Linked DNA regions of Homo sapiens. The protein of the gene in region 2 purifies or fractionates together with the protein of the main gene of each other region. This does not show direct contact. Each region holds a gene or a part of one and is shown on either strand. Other genes may lie near its edges.

Region 1 (10,941 bases), on a different chromosome or scaffold from region 2:
TAAACTCTAAGTAAATAATTTCAAACAAATAATTAACTCAAACAAATCTGAAAGTATGTAACAAATAAAAATGTATACTTACAACTAAATCATCTGTTACTTTAACACACAAGTTCCCATCAGAATGCCTATATTTGAGAACCACACGTGCCTGAAACAAAAATACATATTTAGAAACAGTGAAGACAAATGACATTTCTTATAAATAATTTAGTCTTCAGGTAGGCTGAAAAGGATCCTTTTAGAATAAATACCCCCAAACATCTAAAGGCATTTTTACTATAAACTAAACCGAAATGAAGTTAAAAAAAAAATCAGCTATTTTAGTTCATTCCTTTGCTACCATTTATTTAAGACTTAAAAAGTTGGATATTTTATTTGCAGCCAGTTTGAAGAGATGTACTGAACATTCTCAAAACACATCCACATTCAGGGAATGTCTGTGAGACTTATAAGGTGGCATTTCTTGCCAATAAGAATATACACCAACACACCTAGCCACAGAGGAATGACAGGAAAGGGAGGAAAACATTTAGCAGAAATGGCTAGTTAAAAAGTCCAAATCCATTCATTAGCAAACAGTGCTGCAGGTCAGTGCAACTCACACTTTCCATTTTTCCACAAATCTTAGCAAGCAGATTCAGACTAAAATATTCAGCAAAATCAGGTCTTTATCACGAAGGTAGAACATAACGCATTATTACATAAAAGCAGAATTCTGCCTTGAAGTCTCCACCAACAACTTTTCCAAAAACCAGAATAACTCCTATACTGAAGTTCCATGTTACACAATACTTTATGTTCAATATTCTACAGATTGCCAAGGCATTTAGATATTAGCATATTCCTATAAGACATCTCCCAAGAACACTTCCACGAACATTATTTTTTTTCAGTGATGGATTCAAGCACAGTGTATCGCAGTTTTTCCCTAACCAGTATCAGTAACTCTTGTTTAGCTAGCTGTTTTAAAAACTGCTAAGTATCGGCCAGGCGCGGTGGCTCACGCCTGTAATCTCAGCACTTTGGGAGGCCAAGGCGGGTGGATCATAAAGTCAGGAGATTGAGACCATCCTGGCTAACACGGTGAAACCCCGTCTCTACTAAAAAATACAAAAAATTAGCCGGGCGTGGTGATGAGTGCCTGCAGTCCCAGCTAATCGGGAGGCTGAGGCAAGAGAATGGTGTGAACCAGGGAGGTGGAGCTTGCAGTGAGCCGAGATCGCACCATTGCACTCCAGCCTGGGGACAGAGCGAGACTCCATTTCAAAAAAAATAAATAAATAAAATAAAATAAAATAAAAACTGCTACTTATCTACAAGCCAGAACAGAAACATAATTTTAAAATGGTTACAATCTAGCACCAGAGGCCTCAAGACAATTCTGGAAACTAAATAAAAAGGGCTAATGGAACTGCAACCTACAGCTTTCCCCATTACGGTCTTTGCATTCCTGAGACTGAAAAAAAAAAGTTACATCACTATATGCGATTTGTCTGAGTGAAGGAGGAAAGGGAACTCATCAAGCATTTAAGCAGGTATAAATAGTAGTAACTAGGTTAATTATCTTTAGAATACCTGATTCTATTTATTTATCTAGTAAATTCAGTTTTACACATTTTAAAAATTCAGTTCTCTAGAAACGAAACACTTAAAAATATACTAAGCATGACAACTATGTGAAGTTTTAACTCTCAGTTAAAGGAACACTCACTGGTTTCATTTAGGAGAAATGAGAGTTAAAAGGCCAATCATGGCTGGGTGCAGTGGCTCATGCCTATAATCCCAGCACTTTGGGAGGGCAGGAGTTCACTCACGAGGTCAGGAGTTCGAGACCAGTCTGGCCAACATGGTGAAACCCCGTCTCTACTAAAAATACAAAAATTAGCTGGGCATGGTGGTGGGTGTCTGTAATCCCAGCTACTCGGGAGGCTGAGGCAGGAGAATCGCTTGAACTCGGGAGGCGGAGGTTGCAGTGAGCTGAGATTGCACCACTGCACTCCAGCCTGGACAACAAAAGCAAAACTCTGTCTCAAAAAAAAAAAAAAAAAAAAAGAAAAAGAAAAGAAAAAAGGCCAATCGTGTTTATAAAAGGGTCCATTTGGTAATTTAGAGGGTGCCAAGTCACCATGTCAGATGCCATAAAGAAAGAAAAATCAAGGTTCTTTACCAAAAATAACCAAAACACAAGGACAGAATGAATTAAGTCCTATAAAGGGATATACAGATAAAATGCTAAAGAGAGAAAACAAGTAACTTAGACTGGGAAAAAGGAAAGTCTAAAAAAGGAGGTGGCTTTGAAATGCTTTTTTTGTTTTAACCTTATAGAAGAAGGCAGAAGAAAGGCTAAAAATCATTCTGAACAAGGATACAATCCGGTAGCTTCATGAGACTAGAGCTGAAGATCATGAAAATGGTGAGACAAAGCCAGAAAGACTGGAGATGGGTCAGACTGTGACTGGGAGTTGGGACTATATCCAGTTATCAAAGAGCCAGTTTTTAAGCAGGAGATGAAGAATTCAACTTTTGTTTTTTAGACAGTTGTGGCAAGAGTGTTAAGGAACTAAAAAGGCTGACAGACCAACAAAGAGGTTATTACATAATCCAGTGGTAATGCCATCTTCAATTACAGCAATACAAGACAGAGTGGTAAAAAGATACTGGGTATAATCAACAGGTTAAATGTGTTGCGGAGAGAAGACAGAGAATTTTGGAAAACAGATTCCAGAGACCTGACAAAATTTGTTCTTTAGCCCTAGCAGAAAGAGAATGGACTTGGGGTTCAAAGATCTGGGTCCAAATTTCATCTTAATCTCTCAAGAAACTAGGTATATCACTTAACAGATATAAAATCATTCATTTATATACTTTGATGGGTTGCTGTAATTGTTCATATATTATGTATAAATCTATGTAAACACACATAAATATATATTAAATGCCTGTAACATATAAACATATGTAAAATGCCTGTCACGTAGAGGCGGAGGTTGCAGTGAGCCAAGATGGCGCCACTGCCCTCCAGCCTGGGCAACAAGAACAAAACTCCATCTTGGAAAACAAACAAACAAAAAAAACTGTTAAGCTCTTCCTCTACACTCATCCTCTCCCCTCTCAACATATCAGTCAAGCCAGGCGCCATGGCTTGTGTCTGTAATCCCAGCTACTTGGGAAGCTGAGGCAGGAGAATCACCTGAGGCAAGGATTTAAGACCAACCTGGGCAACAAAGCAAGAGCCCCGTCTTTAAAAAAAAAAAAAAAAAAAAAAAAAATTAGGCAGGCATGGTGGCATGTCTGTAGTCTCAGCTACTCAGGAGGCTGAGGTGGGAGGATCACTCGAGCCCAGTTCAATGGTGCAGCGAACTGTGATTTGTGCCACTGCACTCCAGCCTGTGCCAACTGCAATTTTCTGACTGGGTAAGAGGTGAAATATTCTCTTTCTTGTCTATTCTAGACATGCTTTGCTCACAGTGATGCTCTAATTATTTTCATTTTCCCTACCACTGCCATCACATTCTTACAGTACAGTTACTCTTGATGTGAATTTATATATTCTTTACTGTTGTCTCAAGTATTTTTAGTTTATACTGTGGGTACTTCTGGATAAAAGTCCTGTGTGGTCTCAGAGTAGCATTGTCTGAATGAAGAAACAAATGACCCTGCCAACAAGGGAAGCTAACCAAATGAAGCAACCAGAAGTCACCAGTGTTATAAACAAATTACTCAATTTAAAAAATACAATTTCCATCATTTATTATTGTATCATTTTATTGTAAAAAATAGAAGTATGTTTTACAGCTTGTTACTTAGCTAGGTCTTTCTGTGGGTCTAATACTATTTTTAATCATAATTATCAACATTTCTTGCTGCACACTTTAAACTTATATGCACTATAAACTGTATGTGGCATTGGAGTTACAGGTTACCAGCTCACTGCATACACTTAAAACATAATTCATATTACTTAATGATCATCAATAGTTTCACACAGTAAATCCTGAGCCCTGGGCTGGGCGCAGTGGCTCACACCTGTAATCCCAACACTTTGGGAGGCCAACGCGGGTGGATCACGAGGTCAGGAGTTCCAGACCAGCCTGGCCAAGATGGTGAAACCCCGCCTCTATTAAAAATACAAAAAATTAGCCAGGTGTGGTGGCAGGCGCCTGTAAACCTAGCTACTCGGGAAGCTGAGGCAGGAGAACCGTTTGAACCCAGGAAGTGGAGGTTGCAGCGAGCTGAGATTGAGCCATTGCACTCCAGTCCGGGCGACAGTGCGAGATTTCGTCTCAAAAAAAATAAAACTATTGAAAAAAAAAAAAAAAGATCCTGAGCCCCGGTTTTCCGAGATTTTATCTGCTTTTAATTTTCTTTCTTCTCCGAGGGATACAGTCACAATACACTGGATCTATAATACCCTCCAATAATACCAGCTCCTTAAGGGTTGAACGGAATCTCATTCACCTTTGTGTCTCCCACAGAACCTAATTTAACTTGGGGTCAGTAACACGAGAGTGGGAAATGAATGCAGCATAAAAGAGATAACTGAGTTACAACAAACACAAAACAAAAGAAGCATCATACATAACCAGGTCTGAGGTTTTCAGTATAAAATCCCTTCAATATGCTGAGTTCTAAAAAGAAGCAGAACTTTTAATTAACACGAAGATGCTTCAAATAATTCTTAGACATGACAATAAAATAACCAAAACCTCAAGAGACGAAAAGTAAGACCCGAATGCTAAACTCCCATCACTTGGACTCCTTTGCTTTTTAATAATGAGCTAACCTCTGACATCCACCTCCATTATAATTTTTGTGGGGGCTAAGAATGTATTTCAGAGGTCCATGAATCCCTTAAAATTGTTTGCAAACATTTACTTATACATTTACTTATACCATTTTTCTGAGGAAAGGTGCAAATATTATTCTTATGGTCCCAAAGCCTGTGACTCCCAAAATACTAAGAACCAATATTCTGGGGGGTACAGATGCTTCCAAATTGGAATCTTTCAAGAATGTCTGAGCGGTAGTAGAAAAAACATCATCAGTTTTATATACATGAGGTACCCTTACCGCCTAGGCGGTACAGGAAAAGTGAACCAAGACAAAGGACAGGAAGCTGCAGGGGGAGGAGCCCTGGCTTCAGGGACTCGTAAAACAACCGAAGCCATAAAGGAAGCTGAGGGACTGGGGCGGGAAGATCGATTGCAGAAATGTTTAGGGCTGAGATGAACCTGGCTGTTGCCAGCTTCAGGGCCTCACTGGGCCGCTAGATCAGGGAAGAAGGGGACGAGAGAGCAGAACATTAACTTGGCAGGGTCCATTTGTGTTCATTCCCAGCACCTCCTGGGAGCGCTGGGGAAGCTCCAGGGGCCGAGTGGATGGCGGGAAGACATCCTGGGCTGGGGCCCAAAGCAGCGGCCCCGCCAGCGATTTACCTTCATAGGGTCAGCGAGGTAAAGCTTCTCGGCAGCGCGGCTGAACTCCTCCCAGGTCTGGTACTGCGGCATCGTGGCCTAGAGTGGAAAAGTAAAGAGAAGCAAGGCCTCAGAACCCGGCCCAACAAACTACCTACGTCCGGGAGTCGCCAACCGACGCGAGTCCCAGCAGCCCCAAGATGGCGGCGCCTCCTCGCACCAACGCCTCGCTCCATTGGACAGCCCCGTCCATGCTCGCCCAATGGGCAGGAGGGATGTTGTCAGGGAGTGGGCGGAGCCCAGGGCGTGTGGCTCGAGAGCTGAGCGAGACAAGCGGAGGGCACGGCAACCAATGCCGGCTGCCACAGCGCCCCCGGTAGGGCTGAATGAGTGGCGTCCGTCCCGTGGCCCTCAGGGCTGAACCGCAGCTGCCTTCAACAAAGATTAAGCGGCTCTGCGATAGTCGCTGCATATACGAGGAAGGAGGCGACAGGGCCCAGCTGTCACACAGCTTGGTGAAGAAGCCAGGAGACATAAACACAAGAGTGCAACGGAAAACTTTATATGATAAACATTTATGTCGGGTTAGTGGAGCGCGAAGGAAGAAGGATCTCTTGTGGGTGGGGGGAGACTCACAGAAGCGGTGCAAGCTCAACAGGTAGGCAAGGAAGGGCAGAACACGTAGGCCCATTTTAGATCTGCAGTGTATGTCAGATGACTGGTGTTTAGGAGATGAGGAAGAAGCCATATTATCACTTCTGCAAGGATAAAAAATCTGATCCTCCAAGCAGGAGGATCGCTTGAGCCCGGGAGTCCGAGGCTGCAGTGAGCCATGATCGCGCTACGCACCCAGCCTGGGCTTCAGAGGAAGACGCTGGCGCAAAAGTAAATAAATAAAGAAGATGGCCTGCAGGGGACACCAGGTAAAGGGTATTATATTTTGAGATGGAAAGATTTTGTGCATGTTTATAACTTTTAGAGAAGGACACATAAGAGATAGAAAAATAAAAAATACAAGAGAAAGAAGAAAGCGAGGTCTCGGGAAATATGAAGGGGAAGACCAAAGGCCCAGATGAATAAAAACAGGTGCATTATTGCCTTTGATGGGGTGAGGAGGAGGGAAAAGTCGGGTGAGGGTATAGGTGAGCATGTAGATACGAGGGCAAGAAGGTACATTTTCTTGTCACCTAAGACAGGAGACCACCTTCGTAAATAGGAAGGGTGGTTTTGGATCTTTGAGGAAGCAAGGATGGGTTTGGATCCTTGAGGAGAAGGTTTGGAAAAGCCATTGTGAGAAATGAATAAGGAAGCCTATTAGAAAAAAACAGGTGGGAAGCGGTGGTGCACACCTGCAATCCCAGCACTCTGGGAGGCTGAGGTGGGCAGATCACTTGAAGTCAGGAGTTCAAGACCACCCTGGTCAACATCGTGAAACCCCATCTCTACTAAAAATAAAAAAATTAGTTGGGCTTGGTCGTGGGTGCCTGTAATCCCAGCTACTCTACTCGGGAGGCTGAGGTAGGAGAATCTCTTGAACCCAGGAGATGGAGGATGTAGTGAGCCAAGATCGCATATCACTGCACTCCAGCCTGGGCAACAGAGCAAGACTCTGTCTCTAAAACAACAACAACAACAACAACAAAAAAAGAAACTCAAAAGCAATATGTCAAGTAGAGTAAAAAGCTGAAACTGGAGATCATATCTGGGAATAGCCCCAATTAGGGTCTGTCTCCAGCAACACCCAGAAGCTTGGATTTTGGACTGGAAAAGACAGATATTAGGGATTTATAGGGTACATGAGGAAGAAGAACAAAGGGTCAAGAATGTTGTAGGTGGTACTGGCAAGAGAATGATTGAAATGATAAATTATGGGATCCATGCTAGATAGCTGGTAATTAATTGAGTCAAAAGAGAGAAGTTAAGGAACCAGGATTAAAGGAAATCTGAATTCAATATAGCAGGAAATAAGTTTTAGTCAGATTGGATATTGGGGTTTAACATTTTAGAGTAGCAATAGTCCCTGGTGAGGCTGGATTTATAGTTGGGTTGTCCACACAAAGTCAAAGTCTTCTATGAGTAAGAAAAGGAATAAGATGAAGGAGAAGGCTATGAGCCAGGGACCCAAATCCTCATTTAATGAGACACGTGTGTGTGTGTGTGTGTGTGTGTGTGTGTGTTGAGGGAAGCTATAAAGAGCAATGAGCAGAGGCAGAGAGGGCAGAGTTGGGCAGAATGACCCCCAGGTGTAGGGGTTTTTCCCTGAAGATGAAAACAATGGAAGTTAAGACAATGCCAACTTTGCCTTCTGTCACAAGGAACATAAGAGATCAGTTTCAATTCAATTCAGCAAAAAGTAAAACAAGTGTCCACCCTGGACAAACACCAGGAGCTGGGCTAGGCATTAGAGACCCAGCAGTGAACAAGACAGGCCCAGTCCCTGCCTCATAGAGCTCACAGTTATGGAGAGAATGACAGTAAAGAACAGATCTCCATTGTGAGGGTCCCCATCACTGTGAGTTCCAGCATCTCCAAGCTTAGCCCAGCCTCAGCCCCTACAGAGGCAGAGAAATCAAGATAAGGAAGAAGTTATGGGAATTGCCCTTGATTATGCAAATGTCCCCAGTCACACTAGGATGCATTCTTTTTTTAAAAATTTAATTTTAGGTTCGGGGGTACATGTGCATGTTTGTTACATGGGTATATTGCATACTGGTGGGCATTAGGTTTCTAGTGTACCCATCACCCAAATAGTGAGCATTGTACCCAATTGGTACCTTTTTAACCCTTTCCATCTTCCCACCCTCCCCCTTTTGGAGTCACCAGTGTCCATTATTTCCATCTTTATGTTGATGTGTACCCGTATTCGTCCATTCTCATACTGTTATAAAGAACTACCTGAGACTGGGTAATTTATGAAGAAAAGAGGTTTAATTGAACTCACAGTTCTGCAGGCTGTACAGGAGGCATGACTGGGGAGGCCTCAGGAAACTTAACAATCCTGGCAGAAGGGCCAAATCAAGTGCTTGGAAGCCAGCACTTCTTCACGTGGCAGCAGGAGAGAGAGAGAGAGAAGGGGGAAGTGCTACACAATTTTAAACAACTAGATCTTGTGAGAACTCACTCACTATCACAAGAACAGCAAGGGGGAAATCCACCCCCATGATCCAATCACCTCCCACCAGGTCCCTCCCCCAACACTGGGAATTAGAGTTCAACATGAGATTTGGGTGGGGACACAGAGCCAAGCCACATGAGTGCCCATTGTTTAGCTCCCACTTATAAGTGAGAGCATGCTGTATCTGGTTTTCTGTTTCTACGTTCGTTGACAGGATAATGGCCTTCAGCTCTATCCATGTTGCTACAAAGGACATGATTTCATTCTTTTTTTTTTTTTATGGCTGCTGGATGCATCCTTTAAACTAGGTTATTCCTTTCCTGCTGTGGCTTCTGAAAGGCTATCAGAGAGTGTCCTTTATAAATTGCTCACACATGCACAATGTCAGAAAAGGAAAAATTCCTTTCATTCCCAGTCAAGAAGATCAGGGCCTCTGTACCCTTTGTGGTTATCCTTTCTGCTTCATTTTCACACACATATCTTATTTGAGCTTTCAAACAACTCTGCCAGGGTGGTCAGTGAGCCTTATTACAATTCCAAAAATCTGAAAAGCTCTGGAAAACAAAAGTATCTTGGTAACTCCATTAGTAGAAAATGACCTGACCTCAAGTAAGGTTGCTTAGTCTTTATTTGTTTCACTTGGTGTGTTTGGTTCCAGGGTGGGGCACAGACCCTGCTGGTGGTATTATGTAATATACCACATGTGCACTGTATCACCTTTCTAGGATCCAAAAGGCTGTGAATTCTGAAATACGGGTGGCCTCAAGGATTTCGGACAAGGGATTATAGTCCTGTGCCACTCTCCTTTACAGGTGATGAAGAAACCAAACCTGAAAAATAAGTGACACTAAACAGATTGGCCCCAGACTTTGCTCCGGATTGTCCAGCAAATGGCAAAAGCCAGTGGATGTTAATCATAACCGGAAGTGACAGGATTAATTTTGATTTTTAGAAAGTGTAACTAGTAGAAATACAGAAGCTAGATCGGTAAAGCAGAGCCTGGGTGCAGGGTCAAAACCAAAAGCCCTTGCACTTTTCCTTATGTTCACCACCTCCCGCGATTGTGTTCATGTCTTTGCCTCCCATTCCTGATCCCATTTCTGATCCCATTTCCCATCCCATTTCCACTGTATCTACCCTCTCACCCCAAAGTTGCTTTCATGGGTTCACCAGCTGACTATTATATTACCCACTCCAGCAGACATCTCTCAATCCTTTGTGACTAGATTATTCAGCTGTATTTGAGGCCACTGGCCACCCTCTAATCCCGAAAACTTCCCAGACCCCTGGCTTTTTTGGCCCCATTCTTTCTCGCTCCTCTCTGACTTCTGCTCTGGCTCTGTCCTGACCTCCTCTGCCTCCCCTGGTTCTTCAGGATTGGGATCCCAAGACACCAGCCTCTGGTTTTCACCTTCTCTAGTTCTTCCTGGACAATACCCTTTGAGTTTTAACCCCAACCTCCATGCTATGAGGCTCCTGGATTCCTACTTCGTCCAGGCTTCTTCCCTGAGCTTCAGATTCATATATCCCACTGCCTACCAGGTCCACAGCTAACCCCAGAGTTGAATTGTGGAAGGTGAAAACAATTTCTCACCAAATCAAAATTTCTAAGCTGTAAATGTGATGTCTCTTTAAAAAAAAACAACCTATTTTATTATTACTGTTGGCAAATTATTAGTAACATGCATATTCAACCACCAGAATTCAGTTAACTGTGTATGGCAGACCTTTTATAGGCCAGTCATTGTGCTGGGCAAGGCAATTTACAAGCTAGTGAGGTCAGGGGCAGAGATAATAAGGCAAGTTCACAAATGCCAATAGCTGAAGCTGGAGAGCGCGTCAAAGCGAGGGAGGGAGCAGTCTAATCCCTGAGGCTTGGCAGTACCTGTGTTCACTTCCCCTCCCTTTACATCCTGTTCTGTATCTTCCCAAAGGTCTGCGGAGGCATGCAAGAGGAGGAAAGTTTGGTGGTTGTTAAGATAAAGAGGAGTGACTGTTTTTGAACTCTTTCTTTTGCTTAAGTTTTGGTGCCTCTTTGTTTTCCTCAGTTGTCTTCTAAAAACAATCAGCACTGTAGCTGCTTTAGACTAAGAACATATATAGGTCCTTAAATGGATTCTTATATTAATAATCATAGTACTAGTCCGAAGTGCTGCTGGCTTGCCAGGAATGTGTGTCATGTTTATTTTCACTTATTAAATATTTATTGACCCCGCTATATGCCAGGAGTGAAAGAAGACATTGTTCCTCTTGTACTTCCCAAGTTTCATGGATTCAATGCAAGGCAGACAGGGTAAAACAAACCTGGTAAGAGAAGCCAACCAAGAAACCGGTTTGCCCAGGAGGTTGTGTCCCAGATAGGGAGGGAAGGAAACCTGAGGGAGTCCTGACACCAACGTGGGTCTGGGG
Region 2 (10,781 bases):
ATTTTTCTTTTTATATTACAAAATATCTTACATACAGAAAAACAGACATAATACATAGTCAAACTACCACCCAGATTTAACAAATGTTAACATTCGCTATGTTTGCTTTTGAGTTTTAAAAATTAAACATGGAGGCCAGGCGTGGTGGCTCATGCCTGTAATCACAACACTTTGTGAGGCCGAGGCAGGCAGCTCATGAGGTCAGGAGTTCGACACCAGCCTGGCCAATATGGTGAAACCCTGTCTTTACTAATAATACAAAAATTAGCTGGGCATGGTGGCATGTGCCTGTAGTCCCAGCTACTCGGGAGGCTGAGGCAGAAGAATCGCTTGAACCTGGGAGGCAGAGGTTGCAGTGAGCCAAGATTGCGCCATTGCACTCCAGCCTGGGCGACAGAGCGAGACTCCATCTCAAAAAAAAAAAGAAAATACGGAATATATTCAAAAGAACATTTATAGTATTCATAAGCTATAAAAACAATGAAACAAACATGTACTTTCCCTACAGTTTAAGTAAACTATTAATAGAATGTTTCGAGACCCCATGTCCAACATTTCCATACTTCATATGTCTACCCTCTCCAGGCCCTCCAAACATCAGAGGTATATGGTATATTTAAAAAATGAACACAAATGCTCACTTTAGCTCTACCCTAAATATTAATCATAAATTCATAATGTAGACTATATAAGCAAGCAGAAAGAGGTACGTTCTATCCATAATCAACAGAAAAATTATTTCCTATAATCAAGTAATTACTACTACTAGTATTTTAATTCTCTCAGTAGCATATAGTGAATTAATTCCCGCAGTTGTTTGATCACTCTTAGAATATCAGGTGCATTTCTTCTAGCTTCAGTTGCATGCAATCTCAGGAATGGGATGGACTTTAGTCAAAATGTCCATTATGTCTGCATTCCCTCTGCAATATCCCCCAAATAAATGGTTATCTAGCCTTGGTCTTAATATCCCCAGGAGAGATGACCTGCTATCTAATGTAAGGCTGTCTATGCCATTCTGTTATACTTAGGGAAAAATCTTTTCTTTACACATATTAAATTGAAATCCATTTACGTGGCACTTCCATTCCTATTCATGTATATGTCTCCTTGCTACGCATAAAAAATAAGGCTTTCAAAATCTTTTTTTTTTTTGAGACAGAGTGTTGCTCTGTCCCTCAGGCTGGAGTGCAGTGGTGCAAGCTTCGCTCACTGCAACCACCACCTCCAGGGTTCAAGCGATTCTCCCACCTCAGGCTCCTGAGTAGCTGGAACTATAGGCACACGCCACCACAGCCAGCTAATTTTTTTTGTACTTTTAGTAAAGACAGGGTTTCACCATGTTGCCCAGGCTGGTCTCGAACTCCTGACCTCAAGTGATCCACCGACCTCAGCCTCCCAAAATGCTGGGATTACAGTTGAGAGCCACCGCACCTGGCCAGCTTTCAAATGCATAAGAGCTACCATGTCTCCTGTGAATTTTCGCTGGATGACAAATATCCACCTCTGACTCTTCTAACATGGTTTAGAACCCCATTTATCATCCTGATTTCCTACATCTTTTAATTTGTCTATACATACCCTCTAAGTATATTGTCCAGAAGTGAACTGAAATCCAGGTGAAGTCTAATTATCAATGCAATACTAACAAAGATACAATATCTCAAAATAAAGTCACGATCAAAACCTCCAAATCCATTTCATAAATGCAGCTTTTAAGCCACATCTTCCTTATAAAAGATTTATGAAACATATATATTATATTCCTTCCAACAGCTCAAATCAAATGAAAGAAGATAAACTAATAGCAGCACATCGTGGCAAGTAATACGACAGAGTTAAGCAAATAGAGGAAGGGGCGTTAATTCAAAGAAGGAAGGAAGTCAGGAAAGGTTCTATACTGGGCAAATTACTCAACTTCCCTGTATCCCAGTTTCCTAATTTGAAAAAGGCAGATAATAACTGAATATGCCATAGGAGTTGTTATGATGATAAAATGAATTAATATATTTAAAGTGCTCAGGACAGTGCCTGGCACAGAATGGATACTTTAGATATGCTGCAATTATGAATTCTACATGCAAACATTTTTGCAGTGTTAAAGACAGTGAGGAAAAAAAACAACCTTAAAAGAAAAAGACAGTCTTATTTGGGCTACTATGAAAACCTGGAGCTCAGGAAAAAGAGACTACAAAAAAATAACAATAAATCAGATAGTAGATAAAGCACAGATATGAAAAATTGTTCAAATTGTTAGAATATTACATAAACTTAGTTGATAAAGCAGCAGCAGCAGGGTTTGACAGAACTGACTCCAATTTTGGAAGACGTTCTACTGTGGGTAAAATGCTATCGAACAGCATCGAATACTACAGAGAAATCTTTTGTGAAAAGAAGAGTCAATCAATGGGGCAAATTTCATTCTTGTGTTTTAAGAAATTGTCACAGCCACCTTGACCTTTGGCAACCATCACTGTAATCAGTTAGCAGTCATCAACATCAAGCTAAGGCCCTCCACCAGCAAAAAGATTATAATGCACTGAAGGCTTAGATGATCATTAGCATTTTTAGCAATAAACTATATTTTTTTATTTTTTTCTTTTGAGACAGAGTCTCACTCTGTCGCCCAGGCTGGAGTGCAATGACACAATCTCGGCTCACTGCAACCTCCGCCTCCCGGGTTCAAGCGATTCTCCTGCCTCAGCCTCCCAAGTAGCTGGGATTACAGGTGTGTGCCACCACGCCCGGCTAATTTTTTTGTATTTTTAGTAGAAACGGGGTTTTACCATGTTAGCCAGGCTGGTGTCAAACTCCTGACCTCAGGTGATCCGCCCGCCTCAGCCTCCCAAAGTGCTGGGATTACAGGCGTCGTGAGCCACTGCGCCCGGCCAACAATCAACTATTTTTAAATTAAGGTATATACATTGTTTTTTAGATATAATGCTCTTGCACACTTAATAGACTACAGTATATGTATTTGTAAACATAACTTTTATATACACTGGAAAACCAAAACAATCTGTATGACTGACTTTATTGCATGATATTTCCTTTACTGCAGTGGTCTAGAACCAAACCCACAGTATCTCTGAGGCATGCCTTTATAGGGTCAGGGGAACAGAGCAGTATACTGAGAAAACTGAATTCTTATGTTTCAGACAGAAAGAATTTTCTAAGCATTGCTTAAGCTATCCATTTCTTAGTTTCCCAATGTATGTTAGCAATATTAAAGCTCCGTGAAGAGACTTTCAGTAAATAATTTTTTTTCATAGAGGCAGGGTCTTGCTACGTTTGGCCAGGTTGGTCTTAAACTCCTGGCCTCAAGTAATCTTCCCACCTTGGCCTGCCAAAGTGCTAGGATTACAGGTGTGAGCCACCTCACCCAGCCAAATTTAACTCTTTAAAAACTAGCATTCCACCACATTTGACTCAGAGTTCTCCTTTTAAGTTAACTCTATGAACATCATGAAGAACTAGTGTTCTTTCCTTGTAACTCATTTGGAGAAGTATTATACTAGACATTTCTCTCAACGATGAAGGCAATCCAATAATCATAACCCTTTGAGTAAGAGCTTTCAAGCTATTACAAATCTACCTAAAAATAATCTTTCAGGCTAAATTTCTCCCCATCTTGTCCACAAGAATACAGTGAAACTCTCATCTTACTGATACTCAGAACATTTTTGCCTGAGGAAAATAATCTGCCATCTTACCTTGATCATTCATACTATCCATTATTGTCATTAATTTCTTTAGCCTTGCCATTGACTCCTGTTCATTTCCTTTGCTCATAAAATCTGTCCCAAAACCAGGGATCATCCCCTACAACAGATTTAAACATAAAGTCAATAGTAGCTTAAGATTAATGGTTCAAAATGTCCACATTTAACTATTAGGTTTAATATTGACACTAAGTCTTAGATATATTTTTACCCGAATGTAAAAATAATTAAAGCAAGTGTATCTATTTTAGAAAATTTAATGAAAACAAAAGAAGGTATAAAGTTTTAAGGATAACTAACCAAGATCTGACTGAAGGGGCCCATTTTCATGATATTTTGAAATTGCTCATACATGTCTCGCAACGTAAACTGACCTGAAATACAATGTAAATAATTCGGATATATTAAAGTATGTACATTTCCATTCAACAAAACTAATTTATTCCTTAATCATGAATTCATCTTGAAGCATATTTATAAAATATACATCAATAAATATTCACCAAGCAGTTACCATGTGCAAGATGACAGGATGAATGCTGGGGAGAATACATAGACAAAGACAGGTCCTATCATAGAGAAGCTTACATTCTATCTGAGAAGACACATATACAAACACACAAGAAACCTGAAAACAAGGCACATAAACTACACCTACTAGGATGAGTAAAATTTTAAAGGTTGACAATATCAAAAGTTAAAGTGGATGTGGACCACAAAGAACTCCCATATATTGGTGAGAATATAGAATAGCAAGACACTTTAGAAGATTGTTTGGAGTTTCTTAAATAGCTTAGGTATCTATGAACAGGAAAATGGATACACTGTGGAAAAAATATTATTCAGCAATAAAAAGAACAAACTATAGATAAGTACAACTACATGAATTAATATCAAAATATGCTTAGTCAAAGAAAACAGATTGGAAGAAAAACGATATACTCAGAATTTCTTTATTTTTTTAAGAGGGTTGTGCTCTATCACTGAGACTGGATTGAAGTGGTACAGTCATCACACACTGGTAGCCTCAAACTCTTGAGCTCAAGTGACCGCCTGCCTCAGTCTCCAGAGTAGTTATGACTATGGATGCATGCCACTGGATTTTTCTAAGAGATATGGGTCTCACTACATTGCCCAGGCTGGTCTCAAACTCCTGACCTCAAATGATCCTCCCACCTTGGCCTCCTAAAGCACTAGGATTACAGTGTGAGCCACCATGCACAGCCCAGGACTTCTATAATATGAAGTATTACCGGGAAAGGGCACAAGCAAACCTTTTAGAGTAATGGAAATGTTCTGTTTCTTGATTGGGTGTGGGTTACTGTGCATTTGTCAAAAAAAGAAAGGTATCCTTAGGATTTGAGCATTTCATTGTATGTATACTAACCTAAGGTTTAAAAACAGGGATGGAACAAGCCAAAAGAGAAAGTATTTTCTATTTATGTCCTAAAGATAAAAAGAGAAAAGGTATTTGGTTCAGGCATTCTGAATGTGAAGTGGCAGTACAGTATCTTAAAAGAAATGTTATAGCAGTCAACTAGAAACGCAGAATTAAACAGTGGAAGAGAGGATTAAGGTTGAAATACATATTTGGCCATTTATACAGAAGTGATAATTAAAGCTAGAATAATATAAGAAATCCACAGACATAGAACTTAGAGTCTGAAAACAGAAAAGGCAGAAAACACTTAAATATTAGGAACCAAGGAAAACAAGAAAGGTCACTACATGTGGAAATTAGGAGACCCTTGGAGATCTCAGAATGAGTAGAATATTAGAAATAGAAACAAAAATGTAGAGACTTAAGGAGAGTCAGGAGTCAGAAAGGAAACAGAGTAGGAATATACACCCAGCTTCATAGTGGTAGCAGAAACAGTGGTAGGATTATCCAAGATAGAAAAAGGAAGGAGCGGCCAGGCAAGGTGGCTCATGCCTGTAATCTCAGCACTTTGGGAGGCCGAGGCAGGCAGATCACCTGAGGCCAGGAGTTCGAGATCAGCCTGGCCACCATGGTGAAACCCCATTTCTACTAAAAATGCAAAAATTAGCCGGGCGTGGCAGTGCATGCCTGTAGTCCCAGCTAATGGGGAGGCTGAGGCAGGAGAACTGCTTCAAACTGGGAGGCGGAGGTTGCACTGAGCTGAGATTGTGCCAATGCACTCCAGCCTGGGCAACAAGAGTGAAACTCTGTCTCAAAAAAAGAAGAAAAAAAAAAAAAAAGAAAAGAAAAAAAAGGGGCAAAGAGACAGGCAACAAAGGATAAATTCATTCATTCAATAGTTGCTGAAGGCCTACTATGTGCCAGACACTGTGCTAGGTACTGTGAACATAAAAAATGAGTAACCCAGCTATGACCTCTACCTTCACCTTCAAGCAGGAAAAACAGACATCAAATAATTGTGCTGAATAATATAAAAATTAATTGTAGGAAGTGATAGAAACATCTGTCAGAAGGTTCCAACTCAGTCTAGGGTTCAGGTGAAATGTCCCTGAAGAAGGACATTTAAGGAGAAATCTGAAGTGCAAGTAGCAGTTAGCCATCTTGGCCAGAGGAGATGATGGCAGAGGTAAGAAGAGAGATAGAGGGACTGGCAAAGGCAACAGCCCAGATGTGAGAGACAGGAATGTACATTTGAGAAACTAAAAGAAGTCCAGCATAGCTGGCACACAGAATACTAAGAACAACAATGCTAAAACACAACATGGAAGATGTGAGCTAGACAGTAAAATCAGTTAAAAACTTTAAAAGGGCAAGAGAAAGCCACTAAAGAATTTTAAGAAAAGCAGTAATGGGATCAGATTTGCAGTTTTGAAAGATTATTCTGGGCTGTAGTATGAAAAAATACATCAAAGGGGAAGAGTACAGGAAGATGGAAGATCTGTTGAAAGACTTACAATAAGAAGATCTAGGAAAGAGATGAACTAGCATAGTTGAAGGGCAGCTACAGAGAAGGGGATGGAATGGAGATATTTAGGAGGTGGAAACACTTGGACTAGTTAACTGATGGAGAAAGGAGTGGGCAGAGTGAGGAAGAAATAATAATGACACCCAAGTTTCTGACTCTGGCAACAATATAAATGATATTAATATTCATTGATAAGACAACGAGGTGAGAGGTTGGGATGGGAATAAGGATATGCTGAATTTGAGATGTCTATGAAACATCCAAGAATGGTCTAGTAAACACAGATACATGAGTCTGAAGCTCCTGAGAAAGATAACTTCGAATGATCCCTGAGAAACACCAGCATTTAAGAGAAAAGTAAAGGCACAATTATCTGGTAAGATGAGTGAGAAGAAGCAAAGAGGCAGAATAGTTGCTACGGTAATTAAAGATTATTTTTAGAACAACTGGAATGGTTGAGAATAATATACATTGAGTGTTTATGATGTGCCAGACATTGTACATGCATCAGCGAATGCAATCTTCACAACCATATGAAGTAGTTAGTATTATGTACGTTTTATAGATGACAAAATTGAGGCTAAGTAATTTAAAAAGTTATAAAGCTAAAAAATAGATCAGAGATACAAAAACAGGTATGTTATATTTAAGAACCTGAGCTCCTAATCAGAATAATATCCTTCTCTACAGGAGTGGTCTTTCATGTGGGGTAAAGAAAATGTGGTATATTTAATTTCATCCTTGTGTTCTAACTTACTTTTAACCTGTTTAACTTCAAGGAACCGGCCAAGCACAGTGGTTCACACCTGTAATCTCAGCACTTTGGGAGGCTGAGGTGGGTGGATCACCTGAGGTCAGCAGTTCAAGACCAGCCTGGCCAACATGGCAAAACCCATCTCTACTAAAAATACAAAAATTAGCCGGGCCTGGTGGTACGTGCCCGTAATCCCAGCTACTCAGGAGGCTGAGGCAGGAGAATCACTTGAACCCAGGAGGTGGAGTTTGCGGTGAGCCAAGATTGCACCACTGCACTCCAGCCTGGGTAACAGAGTGAGACTCTGTCTTAAAAAACAGAAAAACTTCAAGGAACCTAGTGAAAGCCTTATTTTAATCTTAATTTTATTACAATAAAGAAAATAAAAACACTGAATTCTGTAACTGCTCAGGTACCTGAGATTTTAAATGATTTGCATATAAATCATCTAAAATAATAAGCAGTGGAAGATCTGACTCTAACAGATATTACATTTCAAATAACTTAATAGTAACTTTATAAAAAAAATCAATGGAAGAAATCTGAGATGAAGTGCTTTTTTGTCACTCATATACCATGTTTCAACTTCTCTATAAGTGCTTCATTGTCATCCAACTTCAACTCGTTGACTTTATCTATCAGTCCTTCAATGTCGCCCATACCTATAAGATACAAAAAAGAAAAATTAACAACTAATACTATACCCTGCTTCACATTATACAAAACACATTCACATACATAATAACCTTGTGAGGTTATAATAGGTTAGGTATTCTTACTACACTACACAAATGAGAAAACCAAAGCTAAGAAAGTTAAGTGGCATGGCCAGGAGCGGTGGCTCATGCCTGTAATCCCAGCACTTTGGGAGGCCAAGGTGGGTGGATCACCTGAGGTCAGGAGTTTGAGACTAGCCTGGCCAACATGGTGAAACCCCGTCTCTACTAAAAATAAAAAAAAATTAGCTGGACCTGGTGGTGCACGCCTGTAATCCCAGCTACCTGGGAGGCTAAGGCAGGAAAATCGCTTGAACCCGGGAGGCTGAAGGTGCAGTGAACTGAGATCCCGCCATTGCACTCCAGCCTGGGTGACAAGAGCGAAACTCCGTCTCAAAAAAAAAAAAAAAAAAAGTTAAGTGGCAACAAACAAGTGGCAAAGCAAGGACTGCAGCCCAGGGTTTAACTCCAAATTCCATGCTCTCTAACTATACCACCTTGAGACATTGCCAAAGTATTACTGCCCTTACATCCACTATTATTAAAACCACTTGTTTTTGTACTGTGCTCTAAAACTTTTCCAAAGAACTTTCTACTAGATACCTCATTTTACCACTTTCACCACAGAGGGCAGATAACCATTATCTCTATTTTACAGGTAAGGAAACTAAGTCACAGAAAGAAATGATGTGCTTAAATTAGTGAGGACAGAATTAAAATCCTATTTTGTCCTAAAGATACATCGTATTTCTTGGAGATTTTTCTATATCCCCACCACTGTACATACCAAGAAGTTTGCTAATAAAAGGCTGTGTTTTGAAAGGTTCAAAGTCATCTATATGTTCCCCTGTACCAATGAAAATAATCGGACTTTTTGTGGCAGCGACTCTGGAAAAAAAAAGAAAATATAAAATAACCTCAAAAGAACCCCACAAATTTCCAGCAGATCTGAAATTCGAAGTGAATCCGCCTCCAAAGCTAATTAGACAAAGGTACAAAACTCAAGTTTCATTTCACAAGTTATAATAGACCTATATCAGACAGGCTCCAAAATTGTTTCTATTTAAACTTTCTTTATAAACCATATTAGGCTCACTATTGAAACATATTTTAAATGATCAATATGAAAGCTATAAACACATATCCTTCCCCATATAATCCCAAGACAGAGGACAACAGTATCAATGATACTTACGCACTGAGTGCACCACCTCCTTTTGCATGGCCATCAAGTTTTGTCACTATTACTGAGGCTACATCTACTTTATCTTTAAAAGCCTTAGCCTGGGCTTCACAAGCCTGCCCAATGGAGGCATCCATCACATAAACAATGTTATCAGGTTGCTAGAAAGTTTAAATAGAAAAGATACTTTAGAAAAGATTTTTATTGATCCTAAGCAAATGTCATCATTAGAAGCTATAAAACAATATTTAGAGCCAGGTGCAGTGGCTCATGCCTGTAATCCCAGCACTTTGGGAGGCCGAGCCAGGTGGATCACCTGAGATAGTTCAAGACCAGCCTGGCCAACATGGTGAAAACCCCGTCTCTACTAAAAATACAAAAATTAGCATACAAAAATTAGCCAGGCATGGTGGCGAGTGCCTGTAATCCCAGCTACTTGAGAGGCTCAGGCAGGAGAATCACTTGAACCCGGGAGGCAGAGGTTGCAGTCAGCTGAGATCATGCCACTGCACTCCAGCCTGGGCGACAAGAGTGAAACTCCATCTCAAAAAAAAAAAAAAAAAAACTACAACATTTACACTATAAATAATTATTCAATCCATAAATATTTGTTGAAGTACTATGTATTATCAGGTACCATCTAGGTCATGAGAACAAAAAGGTAAATGAGAAAATATTTGTCCTAAGAAACTTGCATTCTAGTCAGAGGACATATATAATAAATAGATAAACATTTCAGATGTATAACAACGAAAATGGGATACAGAGTATCAGTTTTGAAGTATGGGAGGCATTTTCTAGTAAGGTAGTCAGGGAAGGCCTCTCTGGACCTAATGTTTGAGCTGAGGCCTGAATAAAGAGGAAAAGGTTATATGCAAAGATTTGAAAGAATGGCAATCTAGGCAAAAAAAGTACAAAGGCAAATCAAAGTAGAAGAGTGTATACTGAAAACGGATAAAATATACTTGAGGCTACTTCCCTTAGATCTGCTCAACTTGGTCAAAATAACAACATAACTGAAAAGAAACTTATTAGCATTAACCACAAACCAAAGAATTACTGCTAACACTCCAATGTCAAGACGTGGGTTCCTAATAATATATGCTGCAGATATCTATAAACTGCTTCTCCTCCCCCAAATTGTTTCCATCACACTTTTAAAGAGACACAAAATGATAATTAATATTTTTTAAAGTATTTAAAAATCTAAGTATTTCCAACTGAATTTTTAAAAAGGAAATTCAACAGAAACTAAAGGCTAATTACTAATTTTTTTTTTTTTTTTTTTTGGAGATGGAGTTTTGCTCTTGTTGCCCAGGCTGGAGTGCAATGGCGTGATCTTGGCTCACTGCAACCTCTGCCTCCCGGGTTCAAGCTATTCTCCTGCCTCAGCTCCCAGGTAGCTGGGATTACAGGCACCCACCACCATGCCCAGATAATTTTTGTATTTTTAGTAGAGACGGAGTTTCACCATGTTGGCCAGGCTGATCTTGAACTCCT
Region 3 (10,781 bases), on a different chromosome or scaffold from region 2:
TTGATTTTTATAAGTTGCCTCCTCATTCCCTACTCAACAACTACAGAGCATTTTGAAAGGCTTGAGCTGAGAGGCATTTTTTAACAGCTTTATTGAGATGTAATTCATGTACGGTACAACGTACCCATTTAAAGTATACACAATTCATTGGTTTTTAGTATATTGACAGAGTTGTACAGTCATTATCACACCCATTTTTATAATATTTCACCACCCCCAAAAGAAACCCTACCATTAGCAGCCATTCTCCCTTTTCATTCAATCCCTTCCTCCCCCACACCCTTAGGAGACCACTAAATTTTTTTTTTTTTTTTTTTTTTTTTTGAGACAGGGTCTCACTCTGTCGCCCAGGCTGGAGTGCAGTGGCACTGTCTTGGCTCTTTGCAACCTCTGCATCTCGAGTTCAAGCAATTCTCATGCCTCAGCCTCCTGAGTAGCTGGGACTACAGGCACGCACCACCACATCTGGCTAATTTTTGTATTTTTAGTAGACAGGTTTTCACCATGTTGGTCAGGCTGGTCTCAAACTCCTGACCTCAAGTGATTCGCCCACCTCAGCCTCCCAAAGTGCTGGTACTACAGGCGTGAGCCACTGTACCTGACCAAAACCACTGATCTTATTGACTCTTTAGATTTGCGTGTTCTGGGCATTTCTTAAAATCATACAGTATCTTGTTGCCTTTTGTGACTTATGTCTTTTACGTAGCATAATGTTTTCAAGATTCTTCCATATAGCCTGTATCAGTACTTCATTCCATTTTATTACCATTAAGATTCCATCGTATGGATATACCTCATTTTGTTTATTCAGTCATCAGTTGATAGACATTTGACTTGGTTTCATTTTTTGGCCATTGTGAATAATAGCTGCTATGAACGTGTAGAGAGGAACTTTTGAGATCATTCTATTTAACACTCTTATTTCATAGATAAGAAAACAGTGATCTAGAGTGGTGGTGACGTGTCCCAAAAGTTGCAGAGCTCTTTGAGTTAACGCAGTTAGGACTGGAACCCAGGTTCACTGATCCCCAGTTTTCTGTCAACCACACAGCTTTAAGTTAACATCTTGACAAAATGTTTGCCACCTGCACATTTTCCTGCCTGGCTAAATTGTTAGTTATATAGCAGAGTTGGCTTATTTGAGGTTTCTGATTTGAACTGGAAGACTGTAATTTGAAACCAGTTAATTTGTAAATTCTCAGTTGCAAGCATGTCAGATAATATAGTGCTGTAATTTATATGATTACAATATTTTAAGTACTCAGTCTAAAGACTCCTTAGGAATCAGACAGCCAAAGCCACATCAAAAGAAGCACAGCTATTATTAAAATCGGGAAATTGTGTTAGAATTTCAGCTGTGATTCATCATTGTGATCCTCTAGCATTAGGCCTGCTTAACACTGTGGCTGAAGTGTGCTTTGAGGTATCAAGGGAGAAATAAAGGAGAGTAGAAGACACTTTTGCTGGAAACCTATTTTCTTTTAATTATATCTTTTTGCCTTACTGACACTTGTTGGGTTTCTTTTTTTAAATTGACTAGCTGTATCATGTAACTGTGAGGGGGTGTGGAACGGGGAGGGAAAGTAACTTTCAAGCTAGAGTGATCTTACAGTCATTTCTGTTTCTTTTTTTTTTTTTCTTCTGTTAAAGTCTTCTAACTGAAGGCATTAGGAATTATGCTTACACGGGAGGCCGTTGTTGATTATTCTGCCCAATAAGGCATATGGCGCAGTGACAGGAGCACTGTGCTAGTAATTTGATGTCACTCTGGTTCTAACAAGCTCTGTGACTTTGGTCATGTGACTTTAACTCTGCATCTGTAAGAAGCAGGTCGTAGGTCTTTCCATTCTCCCTTCCAGATGCAGTATGAGGACTGAGTCAGAGGCTATGGAAAGGTTTGGCTGACGCTTTATTCCCTCCTTCCCCCACATTGTTTTCCCTTGGTAGAATGTACGTCTCTGGAAGACAGAGACTTTCTTTTTCAGTATCTAAGGCCAGTGTGGTACAGGTGGTTGTGTGTGTGTATGTGTGTTTCTAATAATAATGGTAAGTACCTCCCAGCATAGCCATGCTGGAGGAGACACAATGGAGACAAAACAGGCATGGTTCCTCCTCTGACAGAACTTAACGGTCTAGTGGAGGAGGACAGGGATCAAGCATGTAATCCAGAATGCGGCCATCAGGTCATGGCGAGAGCCAAGAAGGAAAGGCTGACAGGCTGGGAGGGAGCTTGGGGGGCCTCACTGGTCTTTGGGATACAGGGCTCAGAAGCTGTGGAATTGACTGTACTTTCTCTGGGTCTGTTTTAGCCTGTGGTAGTCAGAGCATGTCACTTACTGGAATTCAGTTAGGAGAGCATAGATTAACCTTACTCAGGTAACTTTGATTCAGGGCTTTATTGGGGACGTTGTTTAGATATTTTTAAAAATTCACTTTTTTAGAGAGGAGTGGTTTTTAAAATGTTCTCATTTTGGCTTTTTCTGTAACTTTTTGAAGTGTTTCTCTATGTAGATGTTACTTTGTTGTGAAATTCTGAACCATGACATTTGGCTTGTTTTTGTTTCCAGGAGCTTTTGATGGGAGGCCAGCAGACTATTTATTCATGCTCCTCTTTAACTGGATTTGCATCGTGGTATCCTTCAGTCTGTGATTTTGGGCCAGAAATAAACCAGTTTTTTTCCAGGTTTGGGGAAATAGACCATATTCTGTAAACGTTTCAAATTACAATATTTGCATCTTGGTTGACTACCGTTAATAAGAATAATTATAGTTTTTTAAAAAAAACTGTAGTAAATCATATAGCCCTTGAGTGATGCATTCTCTTACCATTTGTGGGATTTTTTTCCACCTTTGGTTGAGTAGTTTTATGACTGTTCCCTCTTCTTGTTCCCAGTTCTCTGTGTTCTCATGTGTGACAGCTTGTTGACTGAGGCACAAAGAGAGTCCGTGCCATGAGACAGCTTTTGAAATCTGTGGTCCTTATCAGAAAATTAATTTACAACCAGCATCCTTTTCTGACTTCATTGCTGTCCTTCTCTTGGGGTCCTACATAGTAATTCAGTCCCTCTGTGAAGTACCCAGCTCTGGGAAGGGACACAGTACGTTTCTCTGCTTTGTATCAATAGCAGTTGTCAGCAGCCCTCCAACTGCAGGACTCTTACAGATGGTGAGAGCAGCAGCAGCTCTCGATGTCTCAGGTCCTGTGCAAAATTGGTGAGCTCAAAATTGCCTTTGGGCTCAGCTGCCATTTAAACTTGGCTGAGGGCCAGAAAATGTGGCACTGTGGATGCCCTTTCCCCCCTCCTTTGAGGGAAGGAAAAAATATTTTGGACTTTAACCATGCTATAGAGTCCTGAGAATGTAAGTAGAATGATTATTTCCTTCAAAGGCTACAGGCATCTTCATCCTTTATTTGAAGGAGAGATGTTAAAATGCAATAGCAGAGAAAAAGGATGCCAGATGACCAGACTAAGTCATATGCGGAAGCTGTTGATTTCTACTATGTCCTTGTCATGGTATCGTCTAATGGAATATGCATAATGAAGATTAGATACCTTTGTGTTGTAGAATGTTTTAAGCAATCTGAACTATAGAAAAGTATTTTCCTTCAGAACACTGGAATTAACTTAAAAATTTTTTTAATTAAAAAAATATGTATATAAATTAGAGATGGGGTCTTGCTATGTTGCCCAGGCTGGTCTGGAGCTCCTGGCCTCAAGCAGTCCTCCCATCTTGGCCTTCCAAAGTACAGAGATTACAAGCATGAGCCAAATTACACCTGGCCAAGTGAACTTTTAAATGGGAGGAAAATAACCACATCAGTCTTGACTAGGTACAGAATGCTTTTTTATGTCTGATCTTTAACTTTACAAACCAAGATTACTGGCTTAGCAATGGATATGCAGGTAAGTGTCCATTTAAACTATCTATTTGCCCTTTTATTTGTTTCAAATATACTATTAGTGGCCTTTGTCAGAAGTTGAAATTGCATTAACTATGGGGTTAATTATGTGGTATTTTGAAATTATGGAATTACAGCTGTTTTATTTATTTATTTATTTATGAGATGGAGTCTTGCTGTGTTGCTCAGGCTGGAGTGCAGTGGCTTGATCTTGGCTCACTGCAACCTCCGCCTCCCGGGTTCAAGTGATTTTCCTGCCTCAGCTTCCCGTGTAGCTGGGATTATAGATGCACGCCACCACACCCGGCTAATTTTTGTATTTTTAGTAGAGATGGGGTTTCACCATGTCACCAGGCTGGTCTTGAACTCCTGACCTCATGATCCGCCTGCCTCGGCCTCCCAAAGTGCTGGGATTACAGGCATGAGCCACCGTGCCTGGCCTATAGCTGTTTTATTTTGAGGATCTTAAGTCAGCTAAATCTTTGAAGATCTTACATGAGCTATCTAAATCATTGCTTTCCTTGCTCATTTCTGGCCTCTTTTTGGTGTTTGAACATTGACAATAATGGTTGTCTAGTATTTTCTAGGCATGTGACAACAGTGGTTGTCTAGTATTTTCTAGGCATGTATATGGATGTTTTTTAAAAATTGAGATTATATGGTAATGCTTTGTTGCTTACTTTTTGTAAATAACAGAGCTTGACTCTTACATTTCTGAATCCATCTAAAATAATATAGTTTTGTTGTATTTTATTATAGGATTTTGTAATATTTATTGTATGATAAATAATAGGATCAATTTATAATTCTGATCAGTTGAGTTTCCCTTTACCCAGGTGAGGATTGTTGTGAAGAGGAGGGGTAAAAAGCATAGTAGATGTACACCTTTTTTAAGTGCCTCTGGAGCCTGGTTTTTACATGTCGACTTCTTTTGCAGTTGCTGATGATTCCTCTGATCATGTCAGTACTTTATGTCTGGGCCCAGCTGAACAGAGACATGATTGTATCATTTTGGTTTGGAACACGATTTAAGGTACTTTGCCTTGGTTGGAAAAGTGTCCTTTTCATTTGTCTGCAGAAATCCCTCTTCAGTCCAGAGATGTACTTTCTGACTCATCCAGAAGGGGTCACTGCAGAGCAGTGTACCATAGGCAAGCCCCTTTCTGCCCTCCTCAATCCCAGCTCTATTTAATTAGCCAGCCTGGAGTCCGTTGCTGGCCTTTGTTTCTTCACTCCCTCTGTACCTCGGGCCCCTCAAGGTTATGTCCCTGAGTGATCTTATGTGTCTGTGTTAGAGAGAAGGAGAGATAACTCATGTGAAACCCTGCTTTAAAAATCTGTTCTTATCCCTCCCTCGTTCCCTGTTATTTGCTTTATACTGTAGCTGAAACAGATTGTTTTTGCCCCCAAACACTTCTCTTTGTACATTCTTTCACAATTTTCCACCTGTAACATCTTGATTCTCTTCTTTGTATAAATCCTACCCATTCTTAATTTGAGTTGGAACTGAACATATTTCCTGAATCTCCTGCCTAGAATTAGTCTTACGTTTGGGCTTTTTCAATACTTTGTGTTTCTCTTTAGTACTTAGCACATGTAGCTGTAAAGTTATTTGAGTATAACCCTCTCTTTCCTAGTTTGTGAAGTTTCTTGCAACTCCTTTAGCTCTTGGTATGATGTCTTGGATTTGGTAAGGGGCTCAAATGTTGAGTTCATCTGGAGAGCTTTCTTATTTGGGAGAGTATTAGTTTAAGATATCAATGCATAATGAGATAAAAATTCAGAGGAATTTTGCAAGATATGTAAAAGAAGAACCTAAAAAGATGGGGTATGTTTATTTTATTTGTAGCAATTTGTTGGCTGGAATCTTAGTGTGATTCTCTCATGGGCCTTGCTTTTAGTAGCATCTGTAGGACACTCATCTGCTTTTTGAAGCTGTCTGTTTATAGCAGTTCAGCAGGGCCTGTATTGCATCAGACCTGTGGGCAAAGTACTGTGTCCTTCCAGTTACAAATACACAATTAAGTCTAGTTTTAGATAGGAAGGTTTAAGTATAGTGGGAATAATGCTAGATTGATCCTAGAAATTTTGCAGTGACCTTCCAGAGGATTTATATAAAGCCCTTGTCAGTGTATCCTTACCCACTTTAGTCCCCGTAGTAGCTGTGTCCTCGTCAGGTGTGGCTACTCACATTTGCATATATTCATTCCATCCTAGGCCTGCTATTTACCCTGGGTTATCCTTGGATTCAACTATATCATCGGAGGCTCGTAAGTGATATTAGATTTATTTAATTGGAAACTAATCCTTGGAAAATTTCCATTAGTTTTTATCTTTCTCTAACCTTTATACAACTTTAAAGAATCTCAACATTGACGCATTAGAACCCTATATTTATGGAATAATTTCACTTCGATTGAATTGATTAGATTGCAGGGCTTTAAGCATATTTAACCTTGAATGGTTGTGATTTTGTTAACTTATTGTTACACACAGTATGTTCCTATGTGTATAGTACAGGAATAAATATGTATTTCTGGATTCACTATTCTGATTGGGCAAACAGAGACCTAATTTTTGTCTGAGTTGGCTCCTCTAAGAGCTATGTATAAAATTACTATGTCTTATATTCTTAAGGCATTTCCAGAATGCCTTGGAAACTGCCTATCGGTCATAGAAATCCAGATTCTTAGATAGGATATAATTTTGCAAGTGGTTTGATGATACAGAACTTTTTTTTTTTTTTTTTTGAGACGAAGTTTCACTTTTGTTGCCCAGGCTGGAGTGCAATGGTGCGATCTTGGCTCATTGTAACCTCTGCCTCATGGGTTCAAGCAATTCTCCTACCTCAGCCTCCCGAGTAGCTGGGATTACAGGCGCCCGCCTCCATGCCCGGCTATTTTTTTTTTTTTTTTTTTTTGGGATTTTTAGTAGAGATGGGGTTTTGCCATGTTTGCCAGGCTGGTCTCAAACTCCTGACCTCAAATGATCTGCCTGCCTTGGCCTCCTAAAGTGCTGGGATTTCAGGCATGAGCCACCATGCCTGGATGATAATACAGAACTTTTGGCCAACCAGGGTCAAATATCTAGTCTATTGGTCAGGAATTAGAGCTAGACATAGGAATAGCTTTAATTTATCCAGTCAGAATTTTAAAGGGAGGATACCAAGATGCAACTTCTCTAAGAACTCCCATTTCTTCATTTTTTCTGTTTATTTATTTACTTATTTATTTTTTCAAGATGGGGTCTGGCTCTGTCACCGAGGTTGGAGTGCAGTGGCGTGATCTTGGCTCACTGCAACCTCTGCTTCCCAGGTTCAAGCAATTCTCATGCCTCAGCTTCCCGAGTAGATGGGATTACAGGTGTGCACCACCACACCCAGCTAATTTTTGTATTTTTTGTAGAGATGAGGTTTCGCTGTGTTGCCCAGGCTGGTCTCAAACTTCTGACCTCAAATGATCCGCTCACCTTGGCCTCCCAAAGTGCTGGGATTGCAGGCATGAGCCACTGCACCCAGCCAGAACTCCCATTTCTTATACTACAAACTACTTTTAATATTTCAATCCATTTTTATATTGCTGGTTCTTCATGTGTCTGACATATTTGCTCTGTGTGATCCTAACTTCTTCTGCATATTGCTGGGGAGAAGTGAATGGATGGAGCAGACTGTTTAGAGCAAAGCATGTTCTGAACTTGGCAAAGCTGCTCTTCCACCCAGGAAGGTGAAGTCTGAAGTAGTTGCAGGTGTTGATTTGCCCCTGACGGGAATCATGTTGCAGGTGAAGACAAAGAGGATTTGTAATAGTAACAGTAGATCTATACACTCTTGAGGTGACCTGTATGTAAGCCAAGGGAAAACTGAAGAAGGTCAGCGTTGATTTCAGGGTGCAAGTCGGCTTTCCTAAGTGATCTCTGTGGTGTCTTACACTCAAGGATACAAGAGGCAAGGGAGAAGTGCTTAATGGCTCCAGGAAAGGGGGAACAGGCATTTATTGTTCCTCTTTTCCTTACTCCCACGCTTCTCTCTTGGTAGCCTTCATGTTTGCCCACATTTTATAAATACAATATTCATGACTGAAAGCATTCAGAAGCATGCTTTGCAACTTCCCCAACTCTTGAGGCAGGAAGTAGCAAAAACAATATTTTGAGGATGGGCTGGTGCTTGAAAGAGAGGTCAGAGGGGCTGCTGGCCTTGAAGAGTGGCAGGCCTCATTGGTTCAGCAGGACTGATTTCCCGTCTCCCTCAGAATGCATTTGCCACTCAGACTACAAAAGTGCTCATTGTCAGCTCTCACAGACTCCCAGGGACTAAATGGGCTGCCTTGAAGGCTCTCTTCCTTATGCTATTAGTTAAAACTTGGTGCATCTCTATTGCTTGAATGTCTTTAAACTCATTTGGCTCTCTTTGCAGGGTAATCAATGAGCTTATTGGAAATCTGGTTGGACATCTTTATTTTTTCCTAATGTTCAGATACCCAATGGACTTGGGAGGAAGAAATTTTCTATCCACACCTCAGTTTTTGTAAGTGTTTTTGTCCTGTCTCATCTAACATTTTACTGCCTGTGTTCTTAGTGCATCCTAATGAGAGCTCCATGAGGAGTATGATTTACCCCTATGCCCCATCTGCTGGAGAAACCTGAGGCAACAAGTGACTTACCCTAGTCACACAGTCACAGGAAGTTAGGGATTAAAGCTTAGGCTCAGTTGCCTTCCTGTTACTCTTTTAGCCAGGGACCACTGACAACTAGATTCCAACATTACAGGAGGCATCTCAGCTCTCTGAGCCTGCTGAGGGACCTGATGCAACTCCAGAGTGCGAAACAGTAGGCTGGTGAATGGGCAGAGTCACAGGTTAGTGGGGTGTCTTTTCTTGGCCCATCAGTTTTTACCCATGATTTTGCCCAAGGAAGGGTAAGTTAGCGTGTTGGTCAGCAATTTTAAACATTTTTATATTAAATACTATGGAGTAGACATTTTACAGGACTGTTCAGAGTTAAAATGAGAGACTTGAGGTTTGTATAGGCCCAACCCCCTGGGAGTTTGTGCTCTTTATCTGCTTTTAGGGTTTACTGAAGTGGGCTGGTAAGGGCAACAGCTTTGATTTTTGAGACAAACTTGGATTTGAATCCCAGTCCCCTCAGATAGCAGTTTTTATACTGGGAAAGTTACTTAATCAAACCTCCAAGCTTCAGTTTGCAAGCCTGTAAATTGTGGGAGAAGCCCCTGTCTCACAGGACTGCATGAGGTAAGATACACTGTTGGGAAGCACAGTAGCGGGTTCTCGGTAAGTAAAGCTAGCTGCCATATTCCTAAAGGTGGGGGTAGGAGAGCAGGATTTTGACGATCTGAGAGGAGACGCGCACACACCCAGAAGCATGTAATAGTCGTGTGACCGTTCTGTCAGTGAGGCAAAAGGCTGTCGAAGAACGGGCCAGTTAAATCACCATCTGGGTGTCACAGCCTGCCTGACAATCATGCCTAATCTCATATCAGGGATATGCAGTAATAGCTTGCATTTGAAAGCTTTAAAAAAACAAACAAACCAAACCCTTCCACATCTTGCTAATTTTAATGTTTTGCAGTTCTGTCATTCCTCTAAGGGATCAGTGAGGGCAGTAAAACTTGAGCAGGCCTCCTCTTTCTCCCCTTCCTTTTATAGGGTAGGGGTATGTTTTTCAAAGACTTTTCAAATTGTGAACTGTAATATACAGAGATATACCATATTGGTGGTTGTGGTGTGTGTGTTTTTCTTTAAGAGAATAAAAAGAAACTTGTTTCTCTTCTGAGCCTTGAATTGCCTTCAGGCTAAAAAAACAAATGACCAATCTGGTTTCTAATTATCAAAGGACATAATAACAGCAGGTTTGGCTTTCTGATCTAGGTTTATCAAGTAGGATGGCAGATGCATCAATTAAAAAAAGCTTGGTGCTTTTGGGGGGCAGCCAACAGTTACTTTACTTTAAATGGCCATATTCTAACTTAACGGCTTGTAGCTACTTCTCAGTTGTGGGCAACACAGGATACAAGATTCTAGTGGCAAAATCAGCGAGCCCTGGAGCCTGCCTTCCACTTGAACTTTCTCTGTTGGGGGAAGTCCTTCTGCTAAATTTTGCATAAAGATCAGATGACAAAATACAGCTCCTTGCAAAAGCAGTAACTGCTTTGAAATTACCATAAATTTTTGTTGATTATGTATAATTGGGTATCTTTTTATACTAATTATTTGCATTTAATTTCACTATCTACTTAAGCAGTGGAGATGGCTTCCATATTGTCTTAGAGTGAGTAGCAAAGCAAGACAGCCCTAGCATTTTCTCCAGCAAGTGTTCTATTTTATTATGTACTTTGGAGGAATATTATTGTACCAGAAGGCATGGATGTTGAGAAACCAGCACTTGGAAAATACATTTTGATTTAATGGTAAAGCTGTATTTGTTTAAAATGGAGGAGGTGAGTATAGGAAGGTATAACTGCTTTTCTAAATGGAATGCTGATACATTTGTATCACCATTTTCCATTCCATTTAGAGTAGTTATATCTTCTCTGTACACACTAAATTTTGTGTTTAAAAGGGGTTTTTGGCCAGGCGTGGTTGCTCACGTCGGTAATCCCAGCATTTTGGGAGGCCGACGGGTGGATCACGAGGTCAGGAGATCGAGACCATCCTGGCTAACATGGTGAAACCCTGGCTCCACTAAAAATACAAAAATTAGCTGGACATGGTAGCGGGCGCCTGTTGTCCCAGCTACTCGGGAGGCTGAGGCAGGAGAATTGCTTGAACCCGGGAGGTGGAGGTTGCAGTGAGCTGAGATCATGCTACTGCACTCCAGCCTGGTGACAGAGTGAGACTCCGTCTCAAAAAAAAACAAAAAAACAAAA

Evidence for each region.
Region 1: the proteins of SRP54 (region 2) and SRP9 purify together in Homo sapiens (co-immunoprecipitation; 5 studies listed by BioGRID and IntAct, with this or other methods). This does not show direct contact.
Region 3: the proteins of SRP54 (region 2) and DERL1 purify together in Homo sapiens (affinity purification with western blotting; 2 studies listed by BioGRID). This does not show direct contact.

Annotation. Positions count from the first base shown.
Region 1 is NC_000001.11:225,772,510-225,783,450, reverse strand, and holds the start of SRP9 (signal recognition particle 9 kDa protein), read right to left. Parts: upstream 5,626-10,941; 5' UTR 5,511-5,625; coding exon 5,439-5,510; intron 152-5,438; coding exon 83-151; intron 1-82. UniProt on the Homo sapiens protein: Component of the signal recognition particle (SRP) complex, a ribonucleoprotein complex that mediates the cotranslational targeting of secretory and membrane proteins to the endoplasmic reticulum (ER).
Region 2 is NC_000014.9:35,012,007-35,022,787, reverse strand, and holds part of SRP54 (signal recognition particle subunit SRP54), read right to left. Parts: intron 9,443-10,781; coding exon 9,294-9,442; intron 8,987-9,293; coding exon 8,886-8,986; intron 8,045-8,885; coding exon 7,958-8,044; intron 4,097-7,957; coding exon 4,023-4,096; intron 3,823-4,022; coding exon 3,714-3,822; intron 1-3,713. UniProt on the Homo sapiens protein: Component of the signal recognition particle (SRP) complex, a ribonucleoprotein complex that mediates the cotranslational targeting of secretory and membrane proteins to the endoplasmic reticulum (ER).
Region 3 is NC_000008.11:123,016,837-123,027,617, reverse strand, and holds part of DERL1 (derlin-1), read left to right. Parts: intron 1-1,845; exon of another isoform or gene 1,846-1,895; intron 1,896-2,567; coding exon 2,568-2,632; intron 2,633-3,878; coding exon 3,879-3,905; intron 3,906-4,838; coding exon 4,839-4,934; intron 4,935-6,118; coding exon 6,119-6,171; intron 6,172-8,312; coding exon 8,313-8,423; intron 8,424-10,781. UniProt on the Homo sapiens protein: Functional component of endoplasmic reticulum-associated degradation (ERAD) for misfolded lumenal proteins. Forms homotetramers which encircle a large channel traversing the endoplasmic reticulum (ER) membrane.